2 separate regions of the Homo sapiens genome follow, and region 1 is linked to region 2. A link means that fine-mapping ties the variant in region 2 to the expression of a gene that starts in the linked region. Tissue or cell type: whole blood. Region 2 holds a variant in brackets; the other region holds the start of a gene. All regions are shown on one strand. Distances are between the middles of the regions.

Region 1 (8,168 bases), 46 kb before region 2:
GGGCTCCAGCTTCCCAACTTTGTCAATGCAACCAGAGTGGACCAGGGTGAGCACGGACTCCCTCTAACCTAGCTGTCGTGGTGTGAAAACATCTGCAAATCCTCAGAGGCCCTCCCATCAGGAGATGTCGTCTCATTTCCCTCCCCTTTAATGTGGGTGAGCCTTCTTGCTTTGCTTCAGTGAAGCAGCAGTGATGTCCCATAATTTTCCATACTGGATCTTTGCCTGGTGCTTTCTCCCCTTCTGTGAACACACACAGATGGCTACACCCTTTCCCCATATCGATTCTGTTCTTTTCTGACTCTGGCTTTCTTAGTATTGGGGTTCTCAAGTAGCTTCAGCCCTGTCTTGATGGATCATCTTTCGGGGTATGTGCTGATTCAGTCTGAGTGTCCAGGTGTCCACCTCCATCTTCTCACAGGGAAAAGCCAGCAGTACTGTTGGCTCTGCCTTGTTCAGGCTACGCTCCTTTCCTGCTCTGCCTTCTCAGAAACTCCCTGAAGCCTTTTTCTTCTTTTCTTACAAGTGTCCAGAACTTCTGAAAAGCAAAGCACATAGAGGCTAGTGCCATCCACTAGGACTTGTGGAATGATAAAATTGTTCTCTGTCTGTGCAGTCCATATAGTAGTGTAGGGGGGCATCTCAGGCTCCTGGTGGAGTCTGAAAATTAAACTTACATAAGACAAGTTAATAGCAGGAAAGCACACAGGTGTATTTGATACAAGTTTTACATGGCATGGGAGGCCTCATAAGGAAATGAAAACCCAAAGAGGCAGTTAGAGTGTGTTACTTATTTACTGAATTGGACAAAGAATAGTAAACTGAAAATGTGATGAGGCAGAGGGGCTTGGGCTAGGGTAGTTAATTGGATAGAAAAGTGACTAAGAAGATAAGGGTTAGTTTAATAGGGTTTGTACAGAATTCTCTTAGCCTCAACTTCCTGTCTTTGATGATAAGAATGTTGCTTTAGTTCTAGTATAAGAGGGACATCTTTCATATGGGAATTTCATCTCTTGCCTTTAAATAAACAAGAGGTTGGGGCCAGGCGCGGTGGCTCACGCCTGTAATCCCAGCACTTTGGGAGGCCGAGGCTGGTGGATCACGAGGTCAGGAGATCGAGACCATGCTGGCTAACACAGTGAAACCCCGTCTCTACTAAAAATCCAAAAAATTAGCCGGGTGTGGTGGTGGGTGCCTGTAGTCCCAGCTACTTGGGAGGCTGAGGCAGGAGAATGGCGTGAACCTGGGAGGCGGAACTTGCAGTGAGCCACTGCACTCTGGCCTGGGCAACAGAGTGAAACTCTGTCTCAAAAAAAAAAAAAAAAGAAAGAAAGAAACAAGAGGTCAAAGTGTCCAGTGTGTATTCTGTATGCAAAAAAGAAAAGAAAAAGTCAAAATAATCTTCTTGCACCTGTCGTTTTTTGGGTGTCTAACTTTTTTTTTTTTTTTTGAGCAGAGTCTCACTCACTCTGTCGCCCAGGCTGGAGTGTAATGGTGCAATCTCGGCTCACTGCAACCTCTGTTCCACCTCTCAGGTTCAAGTGATTCTCCTGCCTCAGCCTCCTGAGTAGCTGGGATTACAGGCATGCACCACGACACCTAACTAATTTTTGTATTTTTTGTAAATTTTGTATTTTTGGTAGAGATGGGGTTTTACTGTGTTGGCCAGGTTGGTCTTGAACTACTCACCTCAAGTGATCCGCTTGCCTTGGCCTCCCAAAGTGCTGGGATTACAGGCGTGAGCCACCGCCCTCAAGTATCTAACTTAGTCAATCCACCAGGTGTCTAACTTAGTCAATCCACCAGGATGCTATATTTATAACTCTTTCAGTAGCCACTGGCTATGTGTGGCTATTGAGCACTTGAAATACGGCTAGTACAGCCAAGAAATGGAACTTTACATTTTATTTAATATTATTTAACTTGAATGTAAATAGCCACCAGTGGTGAGTGGCTCCATCCTGGGCAGCGCAGGTGTGGGCAGTGGGTCCTTTGGCTCTTCTCCAAGATGACTTCTATTCTTCTCCTGATCCACACCAGGGGTGCTTCTCCTTTCCTTTTCCTTCTTGTTTCAAGGATTCCTCAGCTGTCTCTCTAGTCAGGCCTTATTCTGTGAGGTTCATCTCTCTGCCCTGCCTCCTTTCCTCCCCCAGCCTTTGGGAGAATAAAACACTAGCTCTACCCAGTAATTAAGGTTTGAAGGTTTTCTCCCACTTTGGTGTGGACTGGCAGAACGGTGGGAGTGCCCACAAATTTCCTGTGACAAAGAAGAGAATGAAGGAAATTACTAGAAACCACCAAAAATGTCTCTCTTAATTGCAAGTGCTAGCTTCGGGGAGGCAGTCTGTTCCAGCTCCTTTTCAACTGACTACAGATATGAGAATCTAGAACTGTGTGCTTTAGGATAGGGATGGAGAGTTCTTTTCAAAATGTGCATTTTCTAGACCCCAGCTGCAAGAGACCTTGATACCAAAACCCAGTGGCCTAGGAATCAGTATTTCTTAAATATCCATTAGAGCTTCTGCATCGAACCACGTTAGGGAACAACTGATTTAATCAACACACTGATTTACTTAGGAGCTTTTGACTTAGCCTCACTCCATTAAGCCCCCATAGACTGCTCTGCTTTCCAAATGCTTATGTTCACTTTTTACAGTTTTTCTCTGGTCTCCCCTGCATTTACGGTCACCTCCAATTTCCCGCCTCCTTCTCTCTCCAAAAACACACAGCTCAGCTTTTCAAAGTTAGAATAATGCATGTAGTAATCGTAAATAAACTGCACGAAGAGCTGAGATTTCTTTCTATCTCTACGGAGTCCTGAAATGTATGAACTCTGTGACATGTGCTTTAGTCAACTTTCTTTCTAGGAGTTTGGCCCCTCTTGCCTTGCCCTCTACAGACAGTCTTCATTTTCTAAAATTTTGCATGCCAGTGCCCAGAGTGTATTTATTAACAGTTTGAAACTGTCATAAATCTCACTTGGCAGTGATTTTCTTATTAGTTTCAGCATCTCTGCCTTAGCACTGCCAAGCTTGAATGGTCTAGACATTGTCTTCAAAAATAACTCCCTCTGGGACAGGCCTGAAAGTCTCTGGCACAGGATCCCATCTATCTATGGATACTTCTCCTAGGAGATTAGAAGTCTTCCTGGCAGGCAAACATTTTGTCCCTGGAGATCCATCCACTATGGCCAGTATTATGTAAAGGATAAGAGTTCAATGGTTCACATCCATTGAATATAATTCAGTCAACAAAAGAGTGGATTATGCATATATTGCATATATGCAACTCATTTATAACCAAGGAAGAGAGGACCAACAGAAAGTTACAGTTTGGGGAGATTTAAAAATAACTGAACTTATATTGGGGACGTCTTGCTCTTGGAGATAAAAATGGCTCTTATTGCCAGCTGTTGCTCGTTTTTTGGTGGGCGGTATCAAGCATGTGATGCTTTGGTGGCTACACCAGATTCTCTTTTGCAGAACTTGCATGAAGGGTGTGGGTTCCATCCAATCTGTTATCCCCTGTTCCTTCATCCATCCCATTGCCATGCGAGTCTTACTGAGGAGGTGATCTTTACTAGAGGCCACGGATCATTTTTCCATTTCTGCATACATACAAAATTAAAGTTCACCTTGGCCCAGGACCCCTTTGGGGGGGTCACGCCCCCTGCGCCGACGTCCTGGGAGCTAGCGGTGCGCAAGCTCGGCTCACACACACCCCGCCCCGGGGCCTCCTGGGAACTGTAGTAGGCGGCTCGCGAATCCCCGCCGCCATGACAGGACCCGGACTACAGCTCCCGAAAGGCCTCGCGCGTCGCGCCTGCGCCTGCGTCCCTGCGGCCGCCAGAGGGAGGGTTAAGGCGCCTGGGCGCACAGCGAGCCGGCTGAGGGGGCTGTGGCGGCCGCGGCGGGCGACATGGACAACGCGGGGAAGGAGCGTGAGGCAGTACAGCTGATGGCGGAGGCCGAGAAGCGAGTCAAGGCCTCCCACTCCTTCCTCCGAGGGCTGTTTGGGTGAGCGCCAGACCGTGCGTGCCCTGGGGGGGGGGGGTCTCCGTACTTGGCCCCCTTCCTTTCAGGCTGACCCCCCGAGTCCCCCACGCAACCTCTGGGGCCCTCAGACCACGTCTAGGGGCCCTCAGCCTGCAGGCGCCCTCCAGAAATCCTGTAGGGTCCCCCAGCGCCCCCTGGAGCCCCCAGGACGCCCAGGGGCCCTCAGTCCGCACGCGCCCTCCAGAGACCCCACAGGCCCCCCCAGGGTCCCTGGAAACCCCGCATCCTCCCAGGGGCTCTCAGCCCCCACGCGCACTTTAGAGACCCCCTAGGGCCGGCAGAACTCCCCAGGGTTCCTCAGCCCCCACACGCTCTCCGGATCCCCTAACACGCCCCCTTAGAATCCCCAGAGTCTCACAGGGACCCTCAGCCCCCACGCGCCTTTCAGAGAACCCCTAGGACCCCCAGAGCTCCCCAAGCGCCCCACGAAGCCCCTAGAACACTCTGGGGGGGGGGCTGTCAGCCTCACGCGCCCTCTGGAGACCCCAGATCGCCCCCCTCGCCCTGGCCCGGGTTGGTGCGGGGGTCCCACGACCTAGAAGGTCAGCGGCTCCCTGAGGCCCGCGGGCGCGGTAGCTCGGGGCGCGCGTGGGGCCCCCTTCTCAGTGCGTAGCGAGTCGTATTGGTGCATTTCGCCACGCTGAAGCCCGTATCGCTCCTGAGACCGGTCCGGGTGAGGCGCGCCGGGGTGGAGCCGGAGGGGTGGGTGCGGGGGCCGCCCCCGGCGCCTGGAACGCGCACCTGGGGGCGTCCCGCCTGCAGGTGGGCCCCGCCGGGGAGGGGGCGGTCCGGCGAGGGATCCAGAGCTGGTGTGCTTGTTGGCCTCTCTCCAGGGGCCTTGCGCCGAGTACACCTTTAGTAAATACTTGACTAATGAACGAATATATTTTCTCAGCATAGTATTTTTCCTTCTCCGGAGATTGATTGATAGCCAGAGCCTCCTGTTTGATTAACGGTAACGCTGCTGCTGTTTAAGTCAGGCGTCCTTTGGGAATCCCTTTAATTTCCTGTAATTCTTCCGTGCTCTCCTAAGGAGGATTTTAAATTCCAACCTCTCAAAAAGCAGAGCCCGCACTGACAGCCCGGAAGAATTCTGGGCTGTTGAATATGTGAATGATTCAGCTGTTTAGGATGAGAAAGGCAGAAATTTTGTGTGTGCCTGTTTCGTTGTTTTCTTTTGAAAGTGAAAGATCCTTTGCTGTTACCAAGAGCAGATACTTAACCCATTGCATGACTAGACACGATTTTATTTCTGTACACATTCAGTTCAGACTCTATTTCAGAAGACAGACATAATGGGCTCTTAGCTTGTTTTGCCAACTTCATTCTTTTGGCTATAAATTATAATACTTTACCGCTATTGATACGTCTTTAGGAAATGCTTAAGGACAAGTTGCATGCAGTACGCATAACTGCAGAAATGCATAAAGGCTGCAAAAATGCAAGAAGATAAGGGTCCCTGTCCTCAGGAACCTCTCAGAGGACGTTTATCACAGCTGGTTTCTAAATTTCTCATGTGATGTGTAGGAGATATAGCTATGAATTATGTTTTGTTTTGCATTTAAAAGTTATGACAGTACCATCAAGTGCTAGCGCCACACTAACTCCTTTTAAATGTTTTGATTCACAAAACATTTAAAATTCACTCTAATAAAATTTAATGTCATAGTACCTCATGCCAGGAGGTTATTTTAATGTTACAACATTATTTCAAGTCAGGAAGTGCTTCCCTGTGGGAGAGTCTGTAACTGGCAGAGGAAAAAGCTTGACAGCACTTGGTGCTTGTCTCAGGAGAACACTCCTTTTGGGAAAGAGGTTTTCGATGTTTTTAGGAAACTAGGCCAAATCTTGAGCTTATAATCCTTAAAGGATTTTGAAAAGCCTTTGTTTTTAAAGAAACATCTCCCTTTTAAATGTTGCTACCTATGTTATTGACAGGACATATAAGAAGACGAATCTTCACCATTCACACTCAGTTACACAAAAGTTAATGCATCTTAGTTCTTACCTGGGTACAACAGGTTGGTTTATTATCTAGCTTTGGGACCTAGGGCAAGTTACTTAGCCTCTCTGTGCTTCAGTTTCCAGTGTATAAAACGGAGACAATAATAGTATATCTCAAAATTTATGGGAGTTCAGTGAGGTTATGTTTATAAAACATTTGGAACCATGGATGTTGGAGACAGTGACCATGAGATATTAATTAGCATATTCATCAAAATTATCAGCTCCAGTTATTTATCAAAGAAGCAGTAGGCCAAACAGATAACTTTTCCAGAATTTCAGAGCCGTAGACTGCATCATTGATTTTTTTTTTTTGAGACGGAGTCTCACACTGTCACCCGGGCTGGATTGCAGTGGCGGGATGTCAACTAACTGCAACCTCCGCCTCCCAGGTTCAAGCGATTCTCCTGCCTCAGTCTCCTGAGTAGCTGGGATTACAGCCACCCGCCACCACGCCCGGCTAATTTTTTTTTTTTTTTTGTATTTTTAGTAGAGACGGGGTTTCACTGTGTTGGCCAGGCTGGTCTCGAATGCCTGACCTCGTGATCCACCTGCCTTGGCCTCCCAAAGTGCTGGGATTACAGACGTGAGCCAGCACGCCCAGCCTCATTGATCTTTTAATGAAATAAAATATCTGAAAGAGCTTTAACCATTAATGTACCATGCAAGTGTGATTTATACTTTGAAGACTGTTATTTCCAGTAATACTTGCTCCAGGAAAGCTTGCAGGAAGAAGAGTACTTAGAATTTTAGGAGTTTAGTAATATTGTATAATTACTGAAGCCAGAAAACAGACGTAGTGTTCCTGTGTCAGTAGGACAATTAAGATTCTGTATCAATTTTAGATGTTTAGAATCCTACCTTATAGATGGCATGTATCATCACCTTTCTAGACTGGAATACATGTTATTCCACCCTGCCCCTGCCTTCTTAGCTATAGAATGTCACCATTTTCATTCCTAAAGGTCTGCATGTAATCCTTTATTTAAAACGCAGAGTAATCCATCTCTATGTCAGACTCCAGAATTAATGTAATACAAAATTAATAAAACACACATACTGACTTGAATATCATCAGAGCTCATATATTTAAGAGCTGACTAGCTGGTGCTTTAAAGAGGATAAGCCATCTGTTTTCAGGTTGTGGCAGTCATTAAAAGCTGCTTGGCATATTGCAGATATTTCACATCACAGACATTCTGAATGCTCTATCTGCAGATTAAAGCCTGTCATGAGTTCTCTAGTGTTTACCACTCACAGTGGTTTTGTGGCAATACTGTATTCTTAGTAGTATTCTATAGCTTTTGTTTCTTGCTTTCAGTAAAATTAGATGAAAATATGCATATGTATTTATGAGAACATGTCAGTCAAATATTTCTTCTCTGTGTAAGGCACAAATCCTCTGCCTTATCTGCTTGATAGGTAAGGTATCAATATTCCTTTCCCATCCCCACCTTCCTCCCCAGGAAAAGAGCTGACAAGGGATGCAAACATTGCAGGAAACCACTGTTGTGGTGGTTTGTGTTTCTGCTTAATTGCCCGTTAAGCAGTAATGTGCTTTTGTAGTTGTGGAATTAAAACTTTTTCTCAAGTTTGTAGTATAGTACGTTTAGTAAAACTACTTCCAAAGGAGTTGTCTTGTCCTTTAGTTTGTTGCCAGGGATGAGCTATGGAATTTTGTAGTTAATTTCAAATTCCAGTTTATAATGTTAATGAACTACTGGTATGATTTTAAATCGGCCTGAGTCTGACATTAAGATAGTTTTGAATTGGAAAAGCCTCTTATAATACTATCCCCTCCATCTTGTTGCTATGAGACCCGGTTGGGAATAACCTGCACAATGCACATAGAAGAAAGTGCTTAAGACTGACAGTGGAGGCCAGGTGCAGTGGCTCACGCCTGTAATCCCAGCACTCTGGGAGGCCGAGGCGGGTGGATCACTTGAGGTCAGGAGTTTGAGACCAGCCTAGCCAACATGATGAAACCCCGTCTCTACTAAAAATACAAAAATTAGCCTGGCGTGGTGGCGGGCGCCTGTAATACCAGCTACTTGGTAGGCTGAGGCAGGAGAATCACTTGAACCTTGGAGGTGGAGGTTGTAGTGAGCT
Region 2 (8,168 bases):
GGGACTTCATCTTACAGAACTGTTTTTTAAAATATTTTTATGCTACCAGAAACTCCTAGAAGCTCATGAAGAACAGAACAGTGAAGCTTACACTGAAGCAGTAAGTTATGCTTTTGGGACATGGTACATTATTTGAAGATTTAAGTTAAAGAAACTTCTTTTCCTTTTCATTATGTGAATTCTAAACATTTATTTGAACATGACTCCAGCATACCTTAAGTTGTATTTTCCAAACGTCACCTTTTATATATCACACAAATTAAACAGTTCCATTAGCCATGCTGAGATTCGACTTACACTCAAAACTAATTTAGCTGTGAGACTAGTTCAGGAGCAAATATTCCATTTATATTCTTATAATTTGCTGTTTTAATTTTTTCTTTTGAAAATAATCTGACCCATAAATAAGTATAAAGTAAAATTAGTTAAGGCCAGGCACGGCGTCTCACACCTGTAATCCTGGCACTTTCGGAGGCCGAGGCAGGCAGATCATGAGTCAGGAAATTGAGACCATCCTCGCCAACATGGTGAAACCCCGTCTCTACTAAAAATATAAAAATTAGCCAGGCATGCTGGCACACGCCTGTAGTCCCAGCTACTCGGGAGGCTGAGGCAGGAGAATCGCTTGAACCCGGGAGGCAGAGGTTGCAGTGAGCTGAGATTGCACCACTGCACTCCAGCCTGGTGACAGAGCGAGACTCTGTCTCAAAAAAAAAAAGAAAAAAAAAATTAAATATAATTTAAAATATAAAAACTAAGTAGTGAGAATTTGCTGTATTTGTGGCATGAAATAAATGGAAGGTGGCCAGGCACGGTGGCTCACACCTATAATCCTAGCACTTTGGGAGGCCAAGGCGGGTGGATCACCTGAGATCAGGAGTTTGAGACCAGCTTGGCCAACATGGCAAAACACCATCTTTACTAAAAATACAAAAATTAGCCAGGCATGGTGGAGTGTGCCTGTAATACCAGCTACTCGGGAGGCTGAGGCAGGAGAATCTCTTGAACCCAGGAGGTGGAGGTTGCAGTGAGCCAAGATCACGCCATTGCATTCCAGCCTGGGCAACAAGAGTGAAACTCCATCTCAAAAATAAATAAATAAATAATAAATATATATATATATTAAAAATATGAGGGTTTTTTTCTTTATACTTTTTGTTTTTCCATCTTTTGCCATCTCATGTTTAGAATCAAGCAAAAAAAAATGTTTTTATATATTTTGAAACAGATCCTCACTCTGTCACTCAGGCTGGAGTGCTGTGGTGTGATCACGGCTCACTGCACCCTCAACCTCCTGGGTTCAGGTGATCCTCCCACCTGAGACTCCTAAGTACCTGGGACTACAGGTGCACACCACCACCCCCAGCTAATTTTTTTTTTTTTTTTTGCATTTTTTGTTGAGACAAGGTTTCACCATGTTGCCCAGGCTGGTCTCTTAACTCCTGGGCTTAAGCTATCCACCTGCCTTGGCCTCCCAGACTTCAAGGATTACAGGCATGAGCCACTACATCCAGCCTCAAGCAAATTTCTCAGTAGCCTCCTGTAACATGTTCATCACAGCTCAGGAGTGATAGAGGAAAGGAATGTTTTCCTGTCTGACTTTTGCCTACCACATCATTTTCATCCTATTGTAATTTTATTTTTGGGTAATGCATTGAAATGTGTTAATTCCGCTTCCATACATATTCTAACTCTGTAATTAATGTTTTCCCATGTTCAGTGAGTATTAATTTTCCATATTCCTTTCAAATTTTTATACAATATCCAGTTACTTTTGCCACAATAATTATGACTGTTAATGAATTTTTTTCTTACACGTTTGAAAACAGAGAAATGTCAAGCCCAGGAACTTGTCACTAGTATCAAAATAGTAACAGGATAATGAAAAAATAAACAATTTTTTAATGAAGAAAGTTATAAACTGGAATGATTAATTTCAAATGATGAAGAAAGTTAGTAGATTATGGCTGTAAAGGTATAAACAGCTTGGGGTACTATTATTTTGTGTTTTTAATGTATTTACATGGGGTAATTCCTGTTCCTCTTTCCTTATACTAGGTGAAGGAATTTGACTCAATATCTCGCTTGGATCAGTGGCTGACCACCATGTTGCTTCGCATCAAAAAGTCCATCCAAGGGGATGGAGAAGGAGATGGAGACCTAAAATGAAATGTTTTTGTCTTTGTGGCATGCAGCTAACTCCTCTTTAGTTTTGTCTTAGGGTCAAGTGATCTTTATGGGATGCCTATTTAATGGCTTAATTTTGTTGCATATGAGCCAGACGGCCTGTGTATTGTTTAAGCTCGCCAAGTCTGTGTTGCTGTGAAATGAATGAAGGAGAGGCTCCTGTTCATCTTGTGGTAATGATGGGTTGTTTCATGCTTATCAGAACCCCCAGCGTTTTCTGAGAAGTACTTCAGAATCTCATTCCTCATATTTCATTGGTATTTGTGGAGCCTATGTTTAATGTTGCCACGTGTTTTTATGTCCTTTTTGTTGGACTTGAGTACTCAGCCCAGTTGTTCTCATAGATGCTTTGCATTTTCTCTGTGCTTTGGCATCTGAATATGTTCTTTAAATGTGTGTTTAGTTTAGGACAGTTACTAGGAATGAGTTTATAACTTCATTAGAAATCATTTCTATTTTTGTTATCCTGTGATTATTTTGATGGTGCTAGTGACTAGTTTCTTTGCTTTTTGTGTTGTTCCGTATGCTAACATGTGCATGGCAAAAATTTAGAATAGCCAGGGTCTGTAGGCATCACATTGTGAGGAAGGGAGCTTTCTGGAAGTACTTGCTTCATGTATGGATGAGTGTCAAAGTGAATTTGATTTGTACTTAGACACACGCGTTTACACACACACACATATCACAAGATCTGTTAGAAATGGAATTTTTCTCTTTTTCTGGAGATAGTTTTCACTTTTAGTTGGAGTGGAAATCCCTTTATATTTACATTGAAGTATTTTAATTGGCATAGCCTGCTCATTATTTTCATGTTTATACACTTTCCCACGTTGAGGTGGTGTGTTCTGTGCTGTGACTATAGAAATCTTGGTCAGGGCTGGATAGATTATCTAAGTCAAGCTTGAGAATGAATGTATGTAATTTTCCTGTTTATTGTACATGATGGGTTAGGTGGGGTGAATGTGGTACAGGAATGTCCTGTATGCCCAAGTGGGCAAGAACCCCAACTTGTTTCTCAGGGGACTTGATTGTTCTCTTAGCTGGTGGAATATGTTGGCTTATGTGTTTGAACTCTGTCGTGTTTAATTGGTTTATATAATATATGTATGCTATCTTGATTCATGAACTTGATCCTATTAATTTATATGCTGATATTGTACTTTAGACATACGCTTGTCTCCTGAATGTCCTCTGAATATTTATAGTTAAATGATTTATATTTGAAATGTGTTGCCAGACTTAACCCAGCAGACACTCTGACATCACGGAGCTTCACTGATGACAGGTAACGAAACTTCCTATGTTATGTCAGGTAGTAGTAAGTAGTATTGGAATGATGTTTTCATTTTTGGTGGCTCTCAACTGGAATTGGTAGTGTTTCCAGGCCAAGGGTCGACTGCAGGTTGTTTGAGAAATGATGAGTAGGTCAGTCTAGGAAGAAAGAGAAAGTAGCAGGAAAGGAAGTGGGAAGGGCCAGCCAAGGACAGACTGTAGAGGATCCACATCAGGTGGCCACGAGGACTTGCAGGCTATAGTTATGGTGGTGACATGCATGAGGTGGGCTGGTAGAGCAGGAAGCTCTGTGATGTCAGAGCATCTACTGGGACTACAGGTGCACTGTAGTCCCCACTACTGGGGGTGGCAATGAAGACACTCTGTCTGTTGGGCCCTAGAATTTAATGTGGATTTCCTCCTTCCTTCCAAGTTCTGAGATTCTTAAATGAGAGCTGGCTGTCTTCTAGAGGTAAGACCTGGAATGGAGTCCAGTTGGTACTTTTTCACTCCCTCTTAGAATCTCTTATGAAAAAATGATCAGAGAGAAAAGTGGGGTTTTGTTTCCCCACCTAATAATATATCCTACAACCAGCCAAATGCACTTTTGTGAAAATGGGGTGTGAGGAGTGGTTCTGCAGCTTGAGTCCTCTGGTTTTAAGTAGTTTGTTTCTACTTGTTTAAAGAATCTTCTGGTCTGACCACTTAAAGTAAAAACTACATGATTTATTTTCGGGCAATTATGTTTAGCTTTCATCATTATACTCCAACAGACCCGTCTGAAGGGGTATTTTTTTTTAACAATAATGTTTGTAACATTTTGTTGTGTCAATTAGAGGGTCACTTGTTTGTATTGCAATAAACACTGGGACCAGTTCCGGGGTTAAGAATTAATTTTTGTTTTTAATATTTCACATGAAAAGAATCAAAGTAATTGTAATGGCTAGAAGAGACCTGCCAGAAGATTAAAAAAAAGAATGAGAGAAAAGCCCAGTTAGTGGTGTGCAAACTTACTTCCTTTAAATGTCCCATGGATGTAGGACAGTGCCATGTTTCAAGATGCCTGTGAGCTAGGTCTTCAAGATTTATAGAATGTTACTTATGAACAAAATATAATTATTTATGGTACAATTCTTGTACTTTAGCAAATCTGGAGTTAGTTCATAGTCAAAGTCAGTTAATATTTCTTAGAGGAAAGTTTTGCTTTTTGTGGCAACATTTTTATAGCTTGTGTGAGTTCTTTTTTATTTAATGATTTGAAAGCAGTATTTTTGCACAGTCGTGACCGTGTGTGGTGGC[G/A]TCACTGTAACCAAAGTATATGCACCAGCCCTTGTGCATTTATTGTTTCTCCTGATTTTGTGGATTTAAATGTCCAAATGCAAACCTTTGTGACTTCCTTTGGAGGACTTGGCAGCACAGCATGCCCCCGTGACCTGCCTGCTGTGGTATGAGCTATGACCAAGAGCAGGCTTCCTGCTCCATGGAGTCCTGAGTTGCTCTGGGGCAGGGGATTACGTTATGAAAACTAACCATGTGTAACAATAAATCTACCTTAGCAGAAAAAGTATGCTTGTTTTATTTTAACCTATAAAGTGGAAATTATCAGTAATATTTTGATGAGTCTTGTTGCTAAATTGGCATAGGTCAAAAGTAGCTTCCATTGTTTCAAGTTGTTCCCGTTAAGATTAAGGCAACAGACGTTAATACTCTCTAGGCTCCGGTCATTTGTTGGGAATTCCAGGGCACCGTAATGGTTTTGCAGACTGAGGGTTTAGAAGGAAACCCTGGTAACTTCTGTTGATGCAGTCCACTAAAGTACATGATAACCCTGCAGACCCCACATTCTCATCCCTTCCTTGAATCCTTTAGGGTCTACAGTTACTTGCAAAGTTGAGGAAGGCATGGTTGCTGGAAGACTGGTGGGGAGGTGAGGCACCCCTAAGCCTGACACTCTCCTACCCCAAGAAAGTACCACTCAACTATCTGGTCAGTGTGGGCATTTATTTTAATTTTGCAAAATATCTGCACAGGGAGAGGAGATGCCCCTGGGGAAGGGTCAGTCCCACTGACCACTGGGGCCTGAAGTTCTGATGAGGAAGAGGACCCATGGCGGGTAGTGCAGACCGGCTCATCCTACCATCCTATCATAGAGCCTTGATTTCAGGTCCTAAAGTATATTCACAACACTTCAGGTAAGTCAAAGCAAAATGTTTTAAATGGTAGAACAAGCTGTCCTCATCTAGGCATTCTGAGTTGTTGATCATTCAAAGCCTAAATCAAGTGGCTCTTCTCAGAATCAATTTCCTAATGAAGATGCCACCATGGTAGTTTAAAAGCTTAGTTTTGTCAGCCTTAGTTAAGAGTCCACGTACGGATTGCCAAAGGTATGCAGATGATTTTCTGAGTCTCATTTAGCATGATGTGATAGATCAGGGGTCCCCAACCCGTTAGAAACTGGGCCTTACGGCAGGAGGTGAGCTGCAGGCAGTGAAGCTTCATCTGTATTTGCAGTCACTCCCCGTGGCTCACATTACCACCTGAGCTGTGCACCCTGTCAGATCAGCAGTGTCATTAGAGTCTCATAGGAGTGCAAACCCTATTGAACTGCGCGTGCACGGGATCTAGGTTGTACGCTTTTTATGAGAATCTAATGCCTAATGATCTGTTGCTGTCTTCCATCACCCCCAGATGGGACTGTCAAGTTGCAGGAAAACAAGCTCAGGGCTCCCACTATACATTATGGTGCATTGTATAATTACTTCATTGTATATTACAATGCAATAATAATAGAAAGTGCACAATAAATGCAATGCGCTTGAATCATCCTGAAACCATTCTGTCCCCCCACCTGTGGGAAAATTGTCTTCCACAAAAGTGGTCCCTGGTGCCAAAAAGGTTGGGGACTGCTGTGCTAGATGATCCTCTGACCTGTGTGCCTTTCTCAGTCACATCAAATGAAATATTGTTACTCCTGAGTACATGAATATCATGACATTTGGTTAAATTGACAAGTACCCATCTTGTTTCCCAAAAATGAACTCCTTGGAGGGACAAGGTTTATTTAACAGGTTAAAAATTAAATTATACACTCAAATTTACTTGTTTGGATAATCACCTACAGCAAAATCACATTTCTGTAAAAATCACCTTAAATAAAGGTCTCCACCACATGGCCCATTTTTTCCAAACGACAGCAAAGAATTTGGTAAAACGAAAGGCTGCACATCCCTTTGGAGTTTGGGCTGACAGCATTTCACAGAAAATGGTTGGAAAATGGTTGAAGCAAGCTCCTAAATGGCCCTTCTTGAGGCTCTGGGAGAGGCACTGTGCCGGCACCTGGCCACTTTCCTCATTACACACTTGGGACCAATCCACTCAGATGGTGGCCTCGCTTCCACTCAGCATGGCTGTGCTTGGACTTGGAGGAATGGGGCAGATGCTCCAGGAGGTCCTCTGTAACCAGTCCCCTACAGGGTTACGTTTCTCTGTTCTCAGGGACAGAGAAATGTATATAGTAGAAGTCGTATCTTTGATGCCTACTTTTTACATTGAAGAAAGTGGCAGAGAGCTCAACCGCACTTCCAGCCCGGTTGTGGCCTGCGCATGAGCAGAGGCCAGGATTTCTCCTCTCCAGGATCCCACTGCCAGAGACCAACTGGGATCCAAGCAGTTAAACAGCTTAATCCTAGGACTGTATGAAATAAAGGCTTATGGACCCGGATTTTACATTTCATTATTCACGTAATTAAGCAAATTATATGTTTCAATTAAGAATCATATTTCTGCAGAACCTAAATTATAACAGAAATAGATCTTTAAAAAATTGCAAAACTGCTTTTACAAAGCAGACATTTATTAACAACATTTTTTTGTAGAATTTCTAAGGAAACAAATTCAAGACAAAAATCCCTCCAGTAGGTAACAAAATGATCTATTGTTTCAATTCCTTCTGATCAAGTGACTTTATTCCATAAAACAGTACATCAGCTGGGCAGGTTCGGTCTCCTCTGGATGTATGACAGTCATTATTTATTTGTGCTGTAAACATAACTAGGATACAGTGACACTGTCATAACTAAATTTGAAGTAAATTAGTACTGTGACCTCCAAGGGCAGGTGTGAAGCATGTTATCAGCGCCTGAAACACCTTGTAGTGGTTTCACTAACATAAGTTAAAACATAAGCACTTAGGAAGAAAGTCTTCCCTCATTAATTTCTGGCATAGTGCAGCTACATGTTCATTCTGGAACTTAAAGTACCTTCCTCTTAGAAAATCAAAGTGTTTTCACAGCAAGTTTAATAAATTAAAAATGTAGAGAAAAAAGGAACTAGTGAACAAAAGAATTCTCCAAGGTTCCCTTTTTAAATTAATGTTTAAATGTTACATGTGAATCATAGCATTTCACAAGCACGTGGCACATACTCAAGGCCCTAGAACCAAATGTCAACGTTTAACAAATACAGCAGAATCGTCTTTTCATTGTGAATTTTTAAAAGCAATAATTAAGTCCTGCATGAAACAGCCAAAGAAGCATTTGGGACAAAGTTACTGGTTCTTCACAATCAACTCTTTAAGGCATAATCGGAGGTAAGTGTGCTGAGACTTTTGGTCCCTACTGCTATGTTCTCACATGCTCCCAAGGAAATAGACATGTCAGTTACTTGCCTGTTTCCATCTCTAGGTGTGGAAATGAGAAGTCTGGGTTTCT

Evidence for each region. PIP is the estimated chance that this variant, and not a neighbour inherited with it, causes the effect.
Region 1: it holds the start of NAPB, and the variant in region 2 is fine-mapped to the expression of NAPB in whole blood (TOPMed, PIP above 0.99). The same link has a PIP of 0.9 or more in B cells, monocytes, monocytes after LPS, monocytes after triphosphate RNA and prefrontal cortex.

Annotation. Positions count from the first base shown.
Region 1 is chr20:23,417,153-23,425,320 of GRCh38, reverse strand. NAPB (NSF attachment protein beta) reads left to right here and starts at 3,833. Exons shown (of 11, transcript NM_022080.3): 1 at 3,833-4,016. The coding sequence starts at 3,919. RefSeq lists an enhancer at 3,455-3,644 and silencers at 3,895-3,984, 4,615-4,844.
Region 2 is chr20:23,371,377-23,379,544 of GRCh38, reverse strand. GZF1 (GDNF inducible zinc finger protein 1) reads right to left here. Exons shown (of 6, transcript NM_022482.5): 6 at 6,483-8,168. NAPB (NSF attachment protein beta) reads left to right here. Exons shown (of 11, transcript NM_022080.3): 10 at 50-100; 11 at 2,059-5,023. The coding sequence ends at 2,169. Among named protein-coding and RNA genes, the nearest start is that of GZF1, 13 kb to the right of the region's middle. The variant G/A (reference allele first, on the strand shown) is at 4,759.